Regions from separate parts of the Homo sapiens genome. Here region 1 is linked to region 2. The links come from fine-mapping of genetic effects on gene expression. Tissue or cell type: sun-exposed skin. Region 2 holds a variant in brackets; the other region holds the start of a gene. All regions are shown on one strand. Distances are between the middles of the regions.

Region 1 (11,056 bases), 51 kb before region 2:
GAGGTAAGCTTCACAGAAGGGGAGCTGCCTTACCTCCAGAGAGCAGCTTTTAATTTCCTATTTTTGGAAATAACAGAAAGCAAAGAGGACTCTTCTGAAAGGGAAACAACAGGCCACCCCAAGGCACTGGGAGAACAGACCTGGTGCTGAACGGGGATATTTGAGAGCAAGTCCTCTGAGAAGCAGAGACAGCATCAGCCTGCTCTTTTCTTCTGTAATTAATGGGGAGTCCCTGGATCTTTGTATTAGACCCTTTAATCTAAGGGTTGCTAAATGTTTTACAAACATTAATTAATTCAATTAGACTTTGCACCACCACCTTGAGGCAGGTAATTCCTCTTTGGGATATGGCATCTTTGCTTGCTACCACAGACTATTTTAGAGCAGATTAGGATAATTAATACTAAAGGTAAAGCCTTGAGTTTAGATAAAGTTCTATAACTAAAGGTCTCAAGTACTTTACAAATAGCAGATTTGTGTAATGAGGGCTGAGGAGGAAGACTGAGTCAGCTTATTGCCAGTGATGACAAGGCAGAGATATTGCACTTGTTTCAGGTTCCTCTCCATGGTAAAGACACATGACCTTGAACAGCTCTTTGTGACCTCTTTATGACTCAGTTCCTACAGCTTTCAAATGGGAGCAATGATACTACTCACCTCCCTACTTCACAGAGATGTTGCAAAAAACAATATTTGTAATATGCTGTGAGTTCTCAGATGAAAGATGGAAATTAACATATAATGAAACATTATTACCATTTATCATCACAAAACCTAAATGGGCCAGACAAGTGAAGCATCAGCATCCCCACGGCCCTGGCAGAGAAACCGGTCCTGCCATTATTTCCATTGGACATCTATTCTAGACAATCACAGAGGTTGAGAACTGCTCAGAACAACAGGCATGCTCCTAAGATAATCAAAAGCAAACCGAGATGCCAGATCAGCAGAGGTAGCTAAGTATTTGTCCTTTTTATTTTCCGTTCCCATTCTTATTTGGGAGAGAGTATTTGAGAAAAAATGAGTTCAGGGAGAGAATCAGAGAATGAACGAAGGTACTTTTCCTTTTGGACATTCCTCTCAATTCTGAGATATCAATATATGTGTATAATTTGTAGCCCCCAGAATGGGCTGTGTGCGAGCCCTCATCTGTGCTTTTGCTCTCTGTCTCCTTTGTTAATAATGCTTTCCTTTCCCACCTGTATTTATCTAGACAAGCATAAAACTCCTATCCTTGTGAGGGTTTCCTGGCCTAACTCCCTACTTGAAGTTCCTCTGTCACTCTTGTGTAATTAGCATATTATGTGGAATTTATATTTTGGTGTTGGTCTTGTTTCTTAATGGACTTAACTTTTCTGGGGCATAATTTATTAAATCTCTATTCTTCATCTATTACAGATCTGGGCATACTGAAGTTAATCAAACTAGTGCTAAGTGAATGAGTGAATGGAATCCTTCAGGAAAATGTCAAGATTAGAATTCAGACCACACCAAATCCTCATCTGCCATTCTTACTACGCCACATCACAACCCGTGAGGCACGTAGAGTATAGAATAGAAATATTGAACAGGCACAATTAAGGAAAGGGAGGGTGAATTCAAGAATAACTTTTCAAACAATGTTCCTAAGAGAAATAGAAGACTTAACTTAGAAGGTTCAAGAAAACTGTCTACATAAATACAGTATTGCATAGAAGGACTGAGTCGCTTTGGACCTGATTCCTATAATATGAGAGCACAGGCTGATCAGGAACAGTAGGGATATTTATGGAGTTCAGTTTGCCTTCCATGTTATTGTCACTCTGTGCACTAAGCTCAGACTCAGACCTGGCATTCAGGACCTCCATGCATGGCGTTGGTCCATATTTCCCTGCCACATGTCACTCCCCTCTTCTTCCTTCATGCAGCCCATGCTGCAGTGAGGCTGATGGGCTTGCTCTGAACATGACCATGTGTTTCTTCCTCTGATGATTCCCTTGCTTCAAATGCTCTTTCCTGCGGCCTTACTCTTTGTCCGAGCCTCAGCATCTCCACCTGTTGAAGCATTTTTGGCTCTTTCCAAGGCCTTTCTCAAAATGCTTCCTTCACAAAGAGGCTTTTCTGGTCATATAAATGCAAACCTCTTTGCAGAGCACTTTGGATGTGCCAAATAAATGTGTAGAAGAGGTATTAGTCCAGTAACTAGGATCACGGATTGGGAGAGCTGCATTGCCTAGGTCCGAATACTCATTCTGTCACTTACTAATGGTTTGAATGTAGGCAAATTACTTAATGTCTGCACCTGTGTTTCCTTGTCTGTCAAATAAGAATGACCAGAATAGTATCAACCACAGAGGCTTTTGTCAGGATTGTGTGCAACAGTGAGTGTAAACTGTTTAGAATTGTGCCTCATATGTGGAAGTGTTCTGTAAATGTTCTCTTTGCTTTCCCACACAACCTAGCCCTGTTTCTGGTTATGGTTATGTTTGTAGACCAAAATCACTAAATGAGGGTGAGTGCTGTCCATAAGCAGTGTTGCCATCGATAAAATCTAGATGTTTTACCAATAGAACTCCCAAGGAACCTGAGGAAACTCTCTCACTACTGGAGTCCTCAGCTCTATTGAACCAGGTTTGTGGAAAATAATTTTCCATGGACATCTGATTTTTATAAAAGCTTTTAATGTTCTTAAGGACTTACATATTTTCCTGTTCAAGTTTAGCTTAAATATTGTAGCAGCATGACCTGATTTATTTGATGGGGTAAGTTTGTGTACAGTTTCTCCTCTAGCTGTTAATCAGTTACACACTCATCTCAATCCCACAACGGTGCAAGAGTTGCCAAGTGCATTCAGGAACCCAGCCAAAAGGAAACTGCAAATATTGCCAGTGATAAACAGGAGAATGAATTACTTCTTTCTCACCTGCCCAGGAGCACTGATATAGTTTCACCACGTCACATACTAACACTCCTCAACCTCCATCAGTTGAGATGAAATTTGGAATATGCTTGTTTTATATTTTTTTCTGTACTAAATATATAATTACTGCCTAGTAAGGCTGTTAAATGTTCAGTTAGGTTTTTTTGAGGTATAATTTTTTATTGAGGTATGATTTTTAAATTTGTTATATCTCTTCATTGAGATATAATTCACATTTCATAAAATTCACCCTTTTAAAGTATAGAGTTCAGTGAGGTTTAGTATGTTCACAAATTTTTGAAGCCATCAGTAGTTCTAGAACATTTTTATTACCCCCCCCATAAACCCTTTACTCCTTATATTTTGACCTTGTGATAAAATGTTAATTTTATTTTCATTTATTTGGTTAAATTGTGCTAGCAAATTTTTGAAACCAAGAGAACTACATATATATATACACACACACACACACATACACACACACGTACATATATATTTTGTAATTACTATTACAATGGGTTTACTTAGCTTACTTTTTATGTTTATCCTATACTTCACTATTTGCTCAAGGTTTTACACATACAACATATACACACACACACATGCACACATTGATCTTGGTCACATTAGGGTTATTTGGGTCAGGTTGGAGATATCATTGCCAATGTAGCTTGAGGGACAGACAGTGGACATGGTGAAGGTAAAAATAACTATCTTTTGTGGAACACCTATTATTTCCCAGGCACTCTTTCTTAAAAGTCTGTTTTAGGACGTAGGTTCTATTATCATCATCTTTATGTTACATGTGAGGAAATAGAGGAGAATGGAGTTTGTATAACTTGTTATATCCCAAGGTAGCACAACGACCACCTAGTACAGTCCAAATTTGAACTCAGGCCTTCCAAATTTAGTGTATATGCCCTTAGCCACTATGTCCTAACACCTACTGTTCAAATGCACATTTAGTTTAATAATCCTAACAGCACTTGATCAGTGCTGTACAATGTACTTTCACAATGATCTCATTCCATTCTCTCAAAAGTCCTGTCGGGCGGTACCAGATGAGAAGAGCCGGTTCCTATAGTTAAATGATCACACAGCAAGGCCAGTGCAGACAAGCAGCTGGAATACAGGTATTTTGCCAGAGCTAGGGTAGGGGTGTGTTTCTCTACACCACATTGGGACTTCTGACAGTTTTCTTAGACTTCTGTTCCATCTCTTATAATAACAATCCACTTTCTATCATATTTGTTTGGATGTTTGAATCCTTACATCAACACGAGGGTAGCAAATATGACTTAACTTTTTTAGGTAGTCCCTGTGCTCAGGCACTGTTTATTGAATAAATGTGTAAACAAATTAAAAAAGAGTCTGGCCATATAGTCATTTGAATATTTTATTTCTAGACTTCCTTAAGTGTTGAACCATCAATATTTTAGTGAAAGGAGACTACATAGACTAGTTTGATGATACCTTTGTTCTTTTTCTACATGTGTTTCAAAAAAGTAAACTTAATTTCACATACACTTTAAATAGAATTTTTTTTGCATATACAAGGAAATGTGATTACAAATACCTTTTGAAGAGGATTAGTGATAATCTGTACCTTTTGTAAGCAAAATGAATGAGAGTACTATTAGAAACCTGTGGATTGAAGCTTTCATTCATCAAAGAAAATCTGCAGCTCTGTGCGCTTCCGCTCAACCCAATTCCTTAGGTCCTCTGAATAAAGCAGTGACCTGGGAGTTCTTGCACCCGCTCCTCACTCCTGAGAAGGGTCCTGCCAACTCTGTATTGTCCTGTTGGATTTGCAGTCAGAAGTCTGAGGCTGGCAGGCACTGGGCAGGCAATGAGTTCTTTCCCTGTAAGTTGGGCACAAAAAGATCGGCATGGGAGCAGCCTCCTTTGAGACAGCTGCTCTGAGAGAATGCAATAAGCAGGGAGCAGCCAGCAATTCCTCCTAGCAGAGGGCGACTCGTGGGAGGAGTTCAGTTTGCCAAGTATTGTCATTTGTTGAGAGAAGGTGTGTGCTCAAGGAGGAGTTTTAACCTGGAGGATCATTAACTCTTTTAGTCAGCTGAGGAGCTGCGGTGGCTCGGCGAGTTGGAGTTCATCCTGGAAGCGTCTGCACGACAAGGTCAGGGAGGAGGTGTGGAATAACTTTTTCATGGGACACTTTGAGAAGGGCCAGCACGCTCTGCTCAATGAAGGAGAAGAGAATGAGATGGTAAGATTCTAGCCACATTCCCTTCTTCCCATCCCACTTCTCAGCCTGCGAGACACACACACACACACACACACACACACACACACGCACGCATCACACACACACAGACTTTTCTAAAATTTCACTCTGGTATTACACGAGAAAAGGTCATGTTTGAGAAATCTCTCTATCCTGTAAATATAACCTCTGACAGCAGAAATTTGCTAGAATGAAAATATTGTATTCATCTTGTCAAGAATGTTTTCTTTTTAAAGAAAACAGAGAGGGAGAGAAGCACCATGCACTTTATGATTCTTGTTTGAGCCTCATTGGTATAGCCAGTTCTGTTCAAAACACCTAACAATTTTAGGAAATCCCTAATGTGAGGAGCAGTGTATTCCCTGATAGGAAGAAGCAGAAGTTCAGCAGTGAAGCAGAAGTGCAGCTGGGTCTTTGACCTTCTCTTCTCAAATGTCTTGTTCACCGAGTCTGTTGGACAGGGAAGACATGCAATATTAACAATTATCAGCCTACACACATTTCTGTTTTCTTCTAGAATTTTACTTTTGTGGCTTCCTCATTATAGAGATTGGTTACAGAAAACTTTCGGTAGTTCAGTATCTCTTTGATTTTAGATGTGCTTCTATCTTGAGAACTATAGGAAAATCAAAGATGACTTTCATGCTCAGGATGAATTTAAAACTGTATTTCTCAATTACAATATAATCAAGAGAGAGTTAGAAATATGTACTTCTGTTTAATAAGATCTTTCTGCTAATTGTGTAAGCATAGTCTTTTATGCCAGTAATGATGTAATTAAAATGTTAAAATGTGACGCTCTCATTCCATAATAGCATTTAATCTTCCTGGAATTAATATGTAAATAACAAACCTGAAAGATATTTACTTAAAATGTTTTCTTGGTTAATTGCTTTAGCCCTGACTATTACATTCTTTGTTCCTAAACTGGTCTTTCAAGTCTAATCTGCTTACCTGTTCCTATAGCAACAACATTTTTTGGACTTTCAAGAGTAGATCCCTTCTGCTATCAAAGCTGAAAAAATTATAAAGAAGTAAAATGTACATTAATTCAGGTGCCTTTCTTAACCATATCCTTTACTTCATTCAGATTTGACTGCCAAATGAATTGCCTTCAGCCCCTCCACAAATGTCACCAGAAATGGCTTGCTAGCCCACATTGGATATCATCTTTGTTTCTTTAAAGAGTTTTCTTTAGGAAGTGAATATCTCATTACTCTCGATATTAAGTTGAAAAGTTTATCTTCATCTTGAATACTCTTCACCAGAAGGCAGGGGCTCCTTCCTCTGAAACATTTTTTTTCTCTCTCATTTAGAAATACACTCACTCTTTTCCAGTAAACCCCTTTCTGCTCTCAGACAATTTGTCTTTCAAGTCTCAATAAGAATCATTTATTTTCCAGAAGACATTCATGGTTGTAGGGAAACTGTTACCTCTTCCCTAGCATACATATTCCACCAAAGCAATTTAGTTAACAGTTCATCTTCATAATGGCACCATCAGATGCATGGAGAACTCCACGTAGTTTTGTATGCAGCTGAAAGCCCAGTTAGGAGAGGCCCTTTAATATGGAAAGGGACACTGTGTTTTCTGGTAGGCAGCCATTTGGCCAGTAGTCTCAGCAGAGGTGCAGCAATTAGTATGCACTCCTGAGCTCTCCATCCTCTTCTGCCTACAGAAACCTGGCCACCTGCCTGTTGCTGTGTCTGACACTGTGTTCCTTTTTAACTCACTCCTCCATCCCTTGCCCAGAGCAGTAAACTTTAAAAATTATCAAGCTATATATATAGTCTACATATTTTGTAGTGATTTTTAGTATACACAGCATTTTCTTGGCCACTAGCTAATTTAGTTTTCCTCACAACCCTATGAGGTAGATGCTGTGATTCTAACTTTAAAGATGAGGAAATTGATGCACACAGGCTTTCCCTAAGGTTGCATCAACCAGTAAGTCCAGGAGCTGAGGCACCGCACAGGTTAGTTTAAGTTGACAGCTCTTTTGTCTCTGGACCTGAACATAGCCCACTGATACCTTTTCCAGTTCTTCCGGAGAACATTCCACTCTTAACAGAACACATTCCCTTCCTTCATAAAACAAAGCTAAGGAGAACATCAACATCCAGTCTTCTTAGATTCCCCAGCATCTGTTCTGTTATAGATAATTTGAGTTTCTTTTTTCTTCTAGATAATTCGAGTAGCTTAAATAAGTCTGTCTTCTCTGACTTCCAAGTCCAGAAATGTGTCACACCAAAGTGTTTAGTTTCATGCTTTATAATATACTTTACTTGAACCTTTGCAAACGTAATTTCTCTTGTGGTAGAAATTACTTCAAATTTCAAGAGAAAACAACATGCTAGGGTTTAGACCTCATGTCAAATAAAGAAGAATATTCTGAGGCCTAAAGATGCCTGGGATTATCTTCCATTTTGGAGTTAAAAAACCAAAAACAGGCTGGGCATGGTGGCTCGTGCCTGTAATCCCAGCACTTTGGGAGGCCGAGGCGGGCGGATCACCAAGTCAAGAGATTGAGACCATCCTGGCCAACATGGTGAAACCCCATCTCTACTAAAAACACAAAAATTAGCTAGGCAGGGTGGCGTGCACCTGTAGTCCCAGCTACTTGGGAGGCTGAGGCAGGAGTATGGCGTGAACCTGGGAGGCAGAGGTTGCAGTGAGCCAAGATCGCGCCATGGCACTCCAGCCTGGCAACAGAGCAAGACTCTGTCTCAAAAATAAGTAAATAGATAAAAATAAATAAATAAACAAGTAACAAACCAAAAGCAAACAGGAACTAAAGAGCAACCCTAGGTGACCTGAAAATAATATCTTTAACTGCGAAATGAGACAGGACCCAAAGGTAGAAAGAAGCTTTTGGAGGGAGAAGGAAGGAAAGGTGAGAAAGTGGCCTTCAGCGAAGGTTCACCTAAATGACTGCCTCAGAAAGGCTTCGAGGAGGAAACTCTGGGAGAGCACTGGGACGGGACGGGAGGCCTGGCTCTCACCGGCCTTGGGCCAGCCGCTTGCCTGCTCTAGCCTCAGTTTTTATACCTGTAAAATAGGACTGGTCCTTCTTACCCCCACCAGACTCACAGAGTTCTCATGAAGATCAGTGGAGATAATCCATATAAACATGTTTTGAGAAGTAAACAGTTCTGGCGAGGTGTGAGCTGCTATCATCTAAATAAAGGTAGGAAAAGCCAAGGGCTTAGCAATTAACCAATTGAGTAAATACTATCCCACAAAAATGAGGTCATCTCTTGCCATTCAGTTATACCAAAAGGAATATGTACTTTTTTTTTTTCTTTTTGTTACACGGAGTCTTGCTCTGTTGCCAGGCTGGAGTGCAGTGGCGTGATCTCGGCTCACTGCAACCTCTGCCTCCTGGGTTCAAGTGTTTCTCCTGCTTCAGCCTCCCGAGTACCTGGGACTACAGCTGCATGCCACCATGCCTGGCTAATTTTTTGTATTTTTAGAAGAGATGGTGTTTCACCGTGTTGGCCAGGATGGTCTTAATCTCTTGACCTTGTGATCCACCTGCCTCAGCCTCCCAAAGTGCTGGGATTATGGGCATGAGCCACCGCACCTGGCCAGGAATATGTACTTTTATTCATAGGCCGTAGAGACCACTTATAAATGGAGAGGAGCTGGGTTATCTTCTACTTACCTTGTGCATACGTTGGGAAAACACCTACCTTTTTTAGCTTCCTTATTTGTAAAGTGAGAGTATGAGAATGTCTGGGAGCACAAATCTCTTTGAGTCCTGACGTTTTGTATTTCTATTTTGAAGGAATTTAGAACCATTTCCTTATACCATGGCTGAACGAAGGTATCATGGCTTAATTGATTCTAACATTGCTCTTTAGTTACACCTTAACACAATCAATCTTTTGGGGAAGTGTTTTGTTCCAGTGAGACTTTTAAAAAGTAACGTTCCCTGATATTTTTCTCTAGGCCTTAACAAATAAGACAAAAAATAAAAAAACCTTTGAATTCTTTTCTGATTATAAAGGTAACATATGTTTATTGTAAAAATATTGAAATGGCAAATAAGGATCTAAAGAATGAAGTAAATATGCTTCATGAGTTTACCACCAGACATGTCAATAAAAAATGCAGGCTGCGCGCCATGGCTCAAGCCTGTAATCCCGGCACTTTGGGAGGCTGAGGCGTGCAGATTGCTTGAGCCCAGGAGTTCCAGACCAGCCTGGGCAACATAGTGAAACCCTGTCTATAAAAATACAAAAAAATTATCTGGATGTGGTGGTATCCACCTGTAGTCCCAGCTACTTGAGAGGCTCAGGTGGGAAGCTCGCTTTGGTCCAGGAGGTTGAGGCTGCAGTGAGCTGAGATCATATCAGTGCACTCCAGCCTGGGGGATAGAGTGAGACTCCGTCTCAAAAAAAAAAAAAAAAAAACCTAAAATTCACCACTTTCTAACTATTTTGCTCTATCTTCATACTTATCTGTGCTTTTGAGATTATTTGCACCTAATTTATCTGTATCATGGAAATACTAGGTAGTGGTATTACACAGCATGGTGCAATTGTATTTCTTCCGAACTCCTAATTCAGTGACATCACATTGGTAGCTTGAAATAAATAATGTTGGTGCTATTTATGCCACAGAAATCTGTGGATACTACAACGGGACTTCCACCCTGCCCCGCCTGAAGGCCATTTGTTAAATACTTACCAGCACATCACTGAACATATTGTTGCCTCATAATTTCCCTTTTCCCCGCTACATGTTGAAAAACAACATGAATATTGTTTTTGGATATCATCCGTTTGTTTGCATCATGGCAAAACAAGATTATTCCATTGATTTAAAAATTCTATTCTTAAAAAATATACATATACTTAGAAATATGTATCTTTTTCATGTTAGTTTTTTTTGGAGAAAGGGTCTCTGTCTGGGTTGGAGTGCAATGGTGTGATCATAGCTCACCGCACCCTCAACCTCCCAGGCACAGGTGATCCTCCCACATCAGCCTCCTGAGTAGCTGGGACCACGGGCGCATGCCACCATGCCTGGCTAATTTTCCAGTATTTTATGTAGAGAGAGGGTTTCACCATGTTGCCCAGGCTGGTCTGAAACTCCTGGACCCAAGAGATCCACCTGCCTTGGCCTCCCAGAGTGCTGGAATTATAAGCGTGAGCATCCACACCTGGCCAATATGTATTTTTTAACAAAAATGGAGTGATTCTATCTCTACTTTAAAAAAAATTAGACTTTCCATTATACTTACAAATGCTTTATGGATCTCTCTCTCTCTCTCTCTCTCTCTATATATATATATATATTTGATAATTATAGTGTCACATAACCATTTCAATGTTCAAGTTGTGTTTGGATGAATTGTGCTGTATTAGCAGGTTTCCTGTGTTGCACAGCTATTATTTCTAATTTTTTTTTTTTGCTGTGATGAACAACTTTGTACTTAGATATTTATTTATTTTTCAGATTATTTCCTTAAGGTAAAGGCCTAGAATTATTATTACTGCCTCAAAGGGGACATGCATTTTAAATTTGGATTAACACATCATGCCAAATTACCCTTCAGAAGTTATAGTTGTACCAATGTATACTCGGATTAGCAGTCTTTTTTGAGAATACTTGCTTTCTCCTCCATTCATGCTGACATTGAAAATTATCAGTCTTTTTAACTTTGGCTCATTCAGTATACAAAATTGATATTCTGTGGTTGTATTATTTTTACATTTCCTTGATTTGAAGTTGAACACATCTTTGTATGTTTATTGGCATTTATATGTTTTCAACTAGAATCTCTTAATTTTGTAACTGATATTATACCAACCAGTAGTGGGTAACTAAAAACTAGCAGTGGAAAAGCACGGTAAACTCTTTTTGGACTTCCATGTCATTTCGGAGAACCTAGTAATGGGCACAT
Region 2 (11,056 bases):
AATCGTTTTGAGACTATTATCCTTTATAATACAGGGCCATTTATATTACGATTTAACAATTTACATATAGTTGTCTCATTTGGTCCTTACCAGTAGAGATTTTTTTCTCCAGTTTTACAGATGGAGGCATAGAGAAATTAAACAAAATTCTCAGGGTCCCATAGCCGGAAGATGAGAGTTGAACTAGAGTTGGAACTAGAGATCTAATTATTCTCTGTCCAGTGACCAGATTCTACAGAGGCAGCATTGTGAAGTGGTTTAAGAATAAACTCTAGGTTCTGAGTACCTGGATTTGATTCCCAGCACTGCTCTTGACCTTGGGCAGTGTATTTGCCTGCTAGGCTTCTATAGCAAAATACCACACACCAGGTTTTGCTGAAATAACAGAAATTTATTGTTTCATAGTTCTGGGAGCCGAAAGTCCAAGATCTAGGGCCAGGAGAGTTGGTTTCTGGTGAGGCCTCTCTTCCTGGCTTGAAGAAGGCTGTCTTCTCACTGTGTCTTCATGGGGTCTTTTCTCTGTGCTCTTGCACACCTGGTGTCTCTTCATCTCATATGGACATTAGTCCTTTTGGATTAGTGTGTACCCTTATGGCCTCATTCAACATTAATTACCTTCTTAAAGGCTTTATCTCCAAATATGTTGGAGGTGAGGGGTTCAACATGAGAATTTTGAGGGGACACAACTCAATTCATAACAGGCAGGTTATTTAACCTCTTTTTGCCTCCATTTTTTTTCTGTTAACCGGGGCTGATGATAATACCTATCTCCTTGTGAGAACTAAGGATGTGATATGTGTAAAGTTCTGAAATAAAGACTGCTTGGCATGCAGGCATTCCATGGGCATTAGTCAACTTTTTACTACACACTATATCTCCAGAAGTTTCAGACGATGACCCGCTAATCCACTGCTCCATTTCCCCTCAGAAAACAGCTACAAAAATGAGCAAGCCCCAAATCCCATCCCTCCAAAAAAATGTATGCTGAGTTTGCTAGATTTCCTTGTTTTGTACACAAACATAAACATAGCCTTTGCTTTGTTAATAACCTCATTGTGTTGTCCCTCCCTCCTCTTTTTTTTTGGACAACATATACTGAGATAATAATTATTGTGAGAATTTCTCCAAAACTTAGAACTTTATGTATATTATAACTAAATCCTATATTCTAGCCAATGTCAACTTTTTTCCAACTAAAAGACATTGGGAATATGAGGTCGGGATGTTAAGAGCATCAATGAGTCTGGCCAGGAGAGGGAAAGAGAAAGAAAAAAAATGATAGCTGTAAAAATAAAAGAATTTTACCAAAGTTATGGGTCTATAAAGGCAGTGCAGCATTTTAGAATAGCCTGAGAAATTTATTATTACATTATCCATAATCCTCTAGGTATTTCACATGAGCTAGAGTTCAGCCTTTTAGCATTGCAATGTATCCATCTCCAGGAGAAAATTACTCACTTTCTAATGTCTCATTGGAACTTTGAAATGGGTTCTTTTTAAGGCAAGCCAGAACTACATTTTTTTGTGTAGTGAACTATACAAGAGAGGTCACAGCATTGGCCTGAACTTGAAGCAACCATTATATTGCTTTTAAATTTCAAGGGATGAGGTTCTTATTGTAAAAGGATAGAATTAGGTTAAGCAAGATGTGTTAGTCTGTTCTCACGCTGCTAATAAAGACATACCCAAAACTGGGTAATTTATAAAGGAAAGAGGTTTAATTGACTCACAGTTCAGCATGTCTGGGGAGGCCTCAGGAAACTTACAATCATGGTGGAAGGGGAAGCAAACACATCCTTCTTCACATGCTGGCAGCGAGGAGAAGTGCCAAGCAAAAGGGTGAAAGCCCCTTATAAAGCCATCAGAGCTCGTGATAACTTACTCACTATCATGAGAACAGCATGAGTGTAACTGCCCCCATGATTAAATTACCCCCCACTGGGTCCCTCCCATGACATGAGGGGATTATGGGAACTACAATTCAAGAGGAGATTTGGATGGGGACACCGCCAAACCATATCACGAGATAGCTTGCTTCATTCAAGTCTAAAAGTTTATCTGGCATTTCCAGGGTCAGAAAGTACAAAACCACAGGAAATAAAAAATGTCCAGGTTTCTCCCTCTGTTTTTCAGTCCAGGTCAAACACTGGTCCTTTGTATACATTCGACTTTTGAAATGCACTCTTGAATTTTTGTAAAACCTATTTTTTTAGAGTTCAAGGACTGATCCGGTTAATATTTTTGATAAAGAGGAGGTAAAGCCTTCTCAATGAGACCTGAGGTGTAAAAAGTCCAGATTTGCCAGGCAAGCACTTTGCATTATTTGCATTATAAACCAATTATTTAAAATGGTAGCTCCTCTGGTACATTTAAGTATTTTACAAATCATTACCTGCTTTGAAGAGAGCTGGGAAACAGACTAAAGTAGAAGAAGCCATTTACAGGCAAAGATGCTGCTTTTCCAAAAAGGAAAAATTGAGAGACTTTTAGAGTTTCCTCAAAGGGAGAATAAGTTCCTACTTACAGAAAGAACTCAGAAACAACATGCTATGAAAAATGAGGCACAGAGCCATACCATTTGTTGCCTCCCTGCTATGGGCCAAACCTTAGATCAGACACATTATGTATACTTCATTTAATCCTTCAAACATCCATGAAATTTGGTATTACTTCCATTTTCTAAATAAAGAAAATTAGCTTCAGACAGTTGTAAGACAGTTTAGAGCTGGGATTTGAGTTCAGGCCTCAAGCCTGTGCTCTTGCCATATTGGACAACCCCAAAATGAAAACTGAGAAGTCAATGATTTTGCCTGAAGTGACCACTTCACACTGGTGTACTTTCCTTCCATTTCTTTGCTTTTTTTCCTTAAAAAGCTGGGTGATTTGACAGAGTCCTCAACAGGGTAGTATACAAGAGAGAAGTCAGTGTCACTCCCCTACTCTAAGCAAAAGGGTCATCTAGCTGTCCTATCTTTTATTTTTTCTACTTTGTATCATACAGAATTATGTATGATACATAATTAGTAGAATTATTTTATTCTACTTTGTATCATACAGAATTATGAGTATTGGGATTGGGAGTAAATGGGGATGTTAGGAAATGAGCTTAAAGGCAAATATATCCAAGTACCTTTGATTTGATAATATTATGAGCTATAAGAAGAGATAGGTGTATAGATGAATGTCAGTTTTTAATACACACCTAGACTAAGGCATACAGTTAGTTGGTGCACTGGATTAATATGGCCTTTGAGAACCTGGACACTTTGCTTTTCCCTCTTTAGGCATTACAGTCTGGAGGTCTGTCTGCTGTCACACAGGGCCAGAGGGTGACAGCTTGATTTCAGGAATTAGATTCTATGCTGTCAGGAGAGCAGAGATTGTGAGAAACTGGATACTATTTGTCAGTTGGTACAGAATTCAAGGTGATTTTTACATGCAAGCCATAGACACCATGGGACAACTTGTTGAAATAAAGAGGAAGGGACCAAGATTTGGAATGGAAAGATCTGGACTCAGGTCTCAGTTTTATTCCTACTACCAGTTTCAGACTGGCTTGAGCAATTCTTAGCCTTGCTGGTGGTTAGTTTTCTCATCTGCAAAATGGAGATAATTATAATACCAACACTGGAGAATTGTAAGCCTAAAATAAGATAACATAACAAAATTTCTACAAACTGCTATGTAATCATATGAAAATTATGAAACTGCTAGGTAAACATATGAAAGTTGTTAATATTATTTTAATTCACTGGAGACGATTAATAGTTGCTGTCTTCCTAATTGTCCCTACTTGGTGGCAAGAGGTCTCTGGTCTTGATGGCTCTTTTATAATTTGTGTTCCTATTTACCTACAAATTATACATTTTCTTACCAAATTTTTCATTGAAACTATGTTTTTTAGAAGTTCCAGTTCAGGCTCGACATAAAAATGGCAGTCCAATCAAATTATATTTTTTAGCAAAATGTAGAATAAAGTGGAAGGTTAGAGGGGACTCTGGAGGAGGCAAGCAGGAGTGGGGAGGTGACTGTTAAGTGCCTGCTCTAATAGTTACCAAGTATGTCTTTCTTTCCTTGCCAACTAAATGGGAGAATAATTAACTGTAACAATTCCATAGTGTTTTTGACATTAAATGAAATAATACATATGTAGCATTATGTGCTTAGAACATAATAAGTGTGAAATAAATATTAACTGTTATTAGAAATGGAAAGTTCTTACTTAAAAACTGCTTTGATAAAGTCAAAAGCAAAGCTATATAATGCTGAACTGTGTCAAGGTTTGTTCAAGAGAGTTGGTTGCCTACTCTACCATACCTAGACCATGTCTATCATCAGATCGGTGACTTAGTCATTGAAAATTTAGCTCCCTTCCACCATTCTTAGGCTCATCATTCTTAACTCCATACAATTTGATTTGAATTGATTTAGTCACCTTTTTTTTTAAATCCACAGTGTAACAGCCAATTACATTGGCTTTTAAAATTGATTAATTAATTAATATTCCAATTTCTATTAAGGTTATTTTCCCCTCTTGTTGGCTTCCTTCCCTTCTTCATCTCTCTTTCTCTCTCTCTCTCTCTCTCTCACACACACACACACACACACACACATGCACACAGAACCTGTGCTAAGCCTGGCTGAAGTGCAGACATGCATCATACACAATTCCTACCCATAGTCCAAGAGAAGTGGTAAGGTGGATAGGCAAAGGGTAAAATGTGGTAGGAATCTTGAGTATCCTGATGATTTAGAGGAGAGATCACCCAGAGTAATTAGGGAGGTTCTCAGGACATAAACTCTGAGCTGGACCCTGAAGGATGGTAGAATCCAGCCATGTAAAGACTTAAGGAGAAGAGAGAAGAATGTGTACTACAGGCTAAGGAAGCAGCAGGAGCAAAGGCATACAGACGGTCTTCTCTTAGGAGGATGAATATAAGAGATTAGCTACAATGATTGTATCTTCCCCTCTCTGCCTTTTGCAGAGTCAGCTAGGGCACTCTTCATAGCAAAAATGG[G/A]TGTGGTGGTGGAGACAATTTCCAGCTCTGACCTACATTTCCCAAGCATCAAATTTTTCCCACGTTTGACTTTTTCTGTTATACTTCTTGAATCCTGAGGTTTGTCAGTCATCTGAGTGGGTTTTATGTTTAGTATTTCCCTATTCAGACAATAACCACTGTCAAATAGGTCTCTAAGGGACCATTGTGGTATCTGTTTCTCAATCCTGTGCTTCTCCCTCTAATTTTACTCTGTGTGAAGTAATCAGTGAACTGCAAATGGAAGCAATTTTAATTAGGGTCATGCAATAAGGTGCCTTCTTCAACCCCACCTGTGCTAACATCTTGGCAATTACCTTGGGCAGGTTCAGTCCATGGATTCAGTTTTTTTCTTCCATTCTTCAGACTCTGACTGAGCAGGTCTCAGTGCTCCACATGAATGGGAGATAAGGAACAATAAAACGTGATCCCTGCATTCCAGGTAGTCTAGAAGGACTAGAAAAAGTGATTAAGAGCACAAGAGAGGGACACTTAACATTTTTTTGGAGTTAACAAAGTGATAGTTCCCCCCCCTGCCCCGCCCCGGTGGAAGGGTGTTAATGAGGCTGTTCTGTAGGAGGTGGAATTTGAGTTAAGCCTTGAAAGATGGGGATGGTCATCAGGTCATGGGCTGAAAGGTGGTTGAAAGGTGATGCAGTGAACTAGTTCTTACCTGCGAATGAGCCTCCTGATTCTCAAGCTTTGTTATGTGTCAGTGCCTCATCTTCATATCCAGATTCCTCAGTCAGTGATGACAGGTCTTTTTCCCTCAAGGTTCTAGATCCATCATCTTTCAGAGACAAACCGTTCTGTCTAGAATATTCACTAACGCCAAACACTTACAGAATTATATTAAAATGATGTTTCTCAGGTTGAATTGTAGCCTGCTGACCTCTCTTAACTTCTTGGGGGTTTTGATGTCTATCTCCTCAGGATGAATTCCAAATTTACTCTTGGAAAAAGGTAATATGGATCTACCTGTCAGCATTAAACAGCGCATTTGGTCTCACTCCTGACCACCCTCTCATGACAGATGAGGAGTATATCATAAATAGAGCCATAAGAAAGCCAGACCTAAAGGTAAGTAAACTTATGGCTACTGCTGATGTCAGAGAGATTTAATCTTTTTCCCCTCAAGTATATAGTTAAATGTAGCTCCTCTACTGTGCCAATCCTCATTTGATAGTGTATATTTAAAATGTGAACTTTGGAGCCAGACAGTCCAAATCTCAGCTTGCTCCTTCTAAATAGCGCAACCATTGATCTTAACTCTGCTGAGCCTGTTTTCTCATCTACAAAATGATGATAATAATGTCTATTTCTAATATTAATTGATAAAATTCAATAAATTTAGAAATACAAAGATTAAAGTAGTTCCAGGTATATAGCAGATGCTCAATACATACTCGCTCTATTTTCTTTTCCTTTTGTTAGAGGTAGGATCTCACTATGTTGCCCAGGCTGGAGTGCAGTGGCTATTCACAGGTGCATGATTATAATACACTACAGCCTCAAACTCCTGGGCTCAAGTGATCCTCCTGCCTCAGCCTCCCTAGTAGCTGGGATTGCAGGCATGTACCGCCCAGCCCAGCTCTTACATATTAGCTCTAATAGTATCGTTCCCCATATTACAATCTATGTAACAGGGTTAATCTTATAGTAAAAGTAATCACCCAGGAATATCCCAGGAGGTTTGCTTATGCCTACAAAAATGACCTTATTTGAATTCTTGTCATTCAAATGTATTTGGGTTGCTCCCTCTTCACCCTATTAAATTAGTTCTGCTTGGATTATGACTAGTTAACATTCATATTAAAAACATTTTATAAGACAGAATGTTTTGTCTTACATTTATGTATGTGTGGTCAGCTGTTTAAATTAGTTTTATGAGCTCAAGTTCAGTTATTTAAAGTAATAAAGTAAATTATGAGCAATTTTCCTATTGTCAATTGTTATCACCCAGTTGTCTTTTTTTTTTTTTTTTTAAATGGAGTTTCACTCTTGTTGCCCAGGGTGGAGTGCAATGGCGCTGTCTTGGCTCACTGCAACCTCCACCTCCCGGGTTCAAGCAATTCTCCTGCCTCAGCCTCCAAAGTAGCTGGGAATACAGGCACCTGCTACCACACCCAGCTAATTTTTGTGTTTTCAGTAGAGACGGAATTTCACCATGTTGGCCAGGCTGGTCTTGAACTCCTGACCTCAGGTGATCCACCAACCTCAGCCTCCCAAAGTGCTGGGATTATAGGGGTGTGCCACTGCACCCCACCCACTCAGCTGTCTTAGCTGCCCAAATAAACAAAAACAAAGGAGGTCAAGTACCTCCAAATAATAGTTTCCCTAATCTGTTAGATGTCCATTCACCTGGAGAAATAAGCTTCCCAGATAGCCTATGTTCTCATAGTTTTATTGCTCTGAAATTCTAGCATCTTTAGTAGCATCAAATAAATAAGTGGACAGATAAATGAAGAAATGGCCAAGTCAACACACAGAATTGTAGGAGGGGCAGAGGTCTTGAAATGGAAAGTTGTGATAGGTGTACTATCTTCATTTACCAGCTACGGCATAGGCAGTTTGGTTAGTTACTGCCTCTCTGGTCTTGAGTTTCTTATTTATAAAATAAAAGTAATACCCCTTCTTTGCCTTTCTCAGGGCTGTTATGAACACACAATGAGACGATGGATATTAAGGTCATTTGTGAACTTCAATGAGCTATGCTAGTAACAAAACTTTCCTTAAAGTCAGAGGAGCTGTCATGGGCTCAGCCTTGATGACAATAACAGCATTACCAAGAGGGTAACCATTTAGGGGCATTTAAAGGAGGGGTCCCCAATCCCCAGGCCACCGATTGGTGCCCTGTCCATGGCCTGTTAGGAACCAGGCCACACAGCAGGAGGTGAGCTGCTGGCAAGCCGGCGAGCATTACCTCCTGAGTTCTGCCTCCTGTCAGGTCAGCAGCAGCATGAGATTCTCATAGGAGTGAAATCCTTAATATTGTGAACTGCGCATGTGAGGGATCTAGGTTACGGTGCTCCTTATGAGAATCTAATGATTGCCTGATGATCCGAAACCATCACCGCATCCCCAAGATTCGTGAAAAAATTCTCTTCCACAAAACCGGTCCTTGGTGCCAAAAAAGGTTGGAGATCGCTGGTTTAAAGGAAGTCTGAAGACTACAGCAAAGAACTATGTCAGGTTTGGAAACAGGCTAAGAGGAGATGCTAAGGACCATCTTGCAGGATTACAGGCAAAGCTAACACCCAGTGCTTAACTTGTTAAACAGGATGCTCTTATAACATGTTCTAACAAGAAATTACAAGCAGAAAGCCCGGGGAGAGGAAATCTTCCTTATTCCTGAGCAGAAAGATGAAATTCACCCCGCAGCAGATACTTGGTTTCCTAATTGCTGTTTCCTGGTCTGAATTTCCAGGAAATAGGCAAATAAACCTCATCTCTTGCAAATATTGTACTTAACATCCTCTTACCAGCTTCCAGAGGCTCTGAGAGTGATGGGGGAAGCAGATAAACTCCTGGCAGAGATGTTTTCTCCTGCGGGAATCTCAAATATGCTCAAAAGGTCTAGGATGGAGCCATTCTTCTCACTCTGTGAGAAATGGCTTAAGAAATTGTCAGAAGATAATGGAATTTTCTATTTTCTGGCCTGAGGTAAAACTTATCAGTAGCCTCTTTATTTCTCATTATTGCTGCGTTCATCTACAGATGTTTCATGTCTATTATGTTTTATACATTTTTCAACCTCAGTGTGTGGTTTCTGCCTCTTGATAAGAGGTTCTCGAACTGATCAGGGGCCTCACATTGGAACCACAATTTGTCCTTTAAAATATTTCTAACACAGATTTTTGCATTTATATAATTAATAAGTAGATAGCCATCACTTTATACAGCTTGAATCCTGAAGTCAATGGATTTTCAGATTTTCCTTTGGGACTAGCTTGAATATGATATCCTTTGAGAGATTGAACTCTGGAGCCAGATGGGCTGGAGTTCAAATTCCTGGGAAGTTACTTAAGCAAAATGAACTTCAGGCGCAAAGTGAAGAGGAAAATAATATCTGCCCTACCACAGGATGATGGAAAAGACTAAACATAACGTGTGAAAAGTCCTAACATGCCCAAAAAATAGTAGCTGTGATTACAATCCTGCTCTATTTGCAAAATTGCAAAGAATACTGAAGAGAAAAGTAAATTGTGAGGCAAGATGCTTGAGATTTCAACATGTGTCATGATGGCTAACACACCCTAGAGCCTGTCATTTACAAATATTTCCTTTGCAGATTGTGAAATCTGCAAATTAGAGAGAGATTGTGTGTCATTCCTACTGGAAATTCACTCTAAATCGGCAATAAGATATACTTTTTAAATGCATTATGTTTCAATCAACCTTGCTGAAATAAATCCATTCTGTAAAATAAAAAAATACAGCATTTTACATGCTATTTGGTAACTTTGAATGTCTGTGTGTGTGTTTGCACACGTGCACATGTGTACCTGTACATACACCTATTGCATAGAGTTAGCATTCATTTTTGGTAACCTAGACCTTAGAGCTAAGGGATTTAAACTGCATTTCTAGTTGACACGGTTTTACAAAGCTTTCATTCATTTATTTAATAAAAAAATGTATTGAGCACTTATTTTGTGCCAGCTATATGGTCTTTCCAGTTTTAAAATGTATCTAATGGTTATAATGACTATAATATTCTTGCACATAGAATACCTAGAGAGAAGCTGAGGTAGAATATAGACATAATCTGTCCAATTGTCTAAATTTATTCATGGGGAAACTGAAGCACAGGAAAATTTAGTTGAAGTTCTCAAATAGGAATCTAGCAGAGTAGCTACAAAAGGAAGCTCTAGACACTGTTGGCTGCACATTAAAATTATGTGAGGAAAATTATAAATATTATGCCCAGAATGCACTGCAGACAAATTAAATCAGAATCCTTAAGGGTGGGGCCAGACAGCAGTCTTTTTCAAAGCTCCCCAGATGATTCCAATGAGCAGCCTGAGAGTATAATAACCATTGCTCTGTGACAATATGGCAGTCTCGCTGTTTCTTTTTGTGTTCAGTTAGGTCATCAGTTCACGGAAATTCACATTCACATATGAACTTGCTTAAAGAATCAGAAGCAAGAACACACAATTGTCATAAGCGTCAACCCTTCCCTTTTCTCCCACTGCCAACAGTCTCAGACCCTCACTTCCTTTTTTTTTTGTAATAACCTCCTCTTTGTTCTTTAGTATTTGCTGCCAGCCTAATCTTTTTCAGTATTTTAGTATCTTTTTCTTTTTCTTTTTTTTACTGGTTTAATCTGGCTACCAGGATTTTTAAAATTTTGTTTTTAATTGACAAATAATAATTGTACATATTTATGGGGTACAGTGTGATATTTTGATACATGTATACATTATGTATAAATCAAATTCGTATATTTGCATATCTGTCACCTCATAGGTTTATCACTTCTTTGTAGTGATAATATTCAAAATCCTTTCTTCTAGCTATTTTGGAATATACAATACAATATTATTAAACATAGTCACCCTGCTCTGCAAAAGAACAACAGAATTTATTCCTTCTATCTAACTATAACTTTGTACTGTTGACCAATCTTCCTCTATCCCTTTGTCTATGCTATTCCCCCCAACCTCGGATAGCCAATATTGTACTCCCTACTTCTATGACATCAGCTTTTTTAGATTTCACAAATGAGTAAGATCCTACAGTATTTGCCTTATTGTGTCTTGTTTATTTCATTTCACATCTCTTCAAAGTTCATCCACATTGTCAAAATTGACAGAATTTCCTTCTTTTTAGGGCCAAATAACATTCCACAAAGAAAATGTACATGTACATTTTCTTTATCCATTCATCCATTGATAGACCCTTAGGTTAATTCCATATCTTGGTTATTGTGAATAGTACTGCAATAAACACGAGAGTGCAGATATTTATTTGACATACTGATTTCTTTTCCTTTAGATATATACTTATTATTGGAA

Evidence for each region. PIP is the estimated chance that this variant, and not a neighbour inherited with it, causes the effect.
Region 1: it holds the start of ATP13A4, and the variant in region 2 is fine-mapped to the expression of ATP13A4 in sun-exposed skin (GTEx, PIP above 0.99). The same link has a PIP of 0.9 or more in unexposed skin.

What each region holds. Positions count from the first base shown.
Region 1 is chr3:193,548,810-193,559,865 of GRCh38, reverse strand. ATP13A4 (ATPase 13A4) reads left to right here and starts at 4,971. Exons shown (of 30, transcript NM_032279.4): 1 at 4,971-5,126. The coding sequence starts at 5,067. It overlaps ATP13A4-AS1 (ATP13A4 antisense RNA 1), which reads right to left and starts at 6,653. Exons shown (of 2, transcript NR_121666.1): 1 at 6,579-6,653; 2 at 4,282-5,096.
Region 2 is chr3:193,497,553-193,508,608 of GRCh38, reverse strand. ATP13A4 (ATPase 13A4) reads left to right here. Exons shown (of 30, transcript NM_032279.4): 3 at 5,970-6,116. Among named protein-coding and RNA genes, the nearest start is that of ATP13A4-AS1, 50 kb to the left of the region's middle. The variant G/A (reference allele first, on the strand shown) is at 5,019.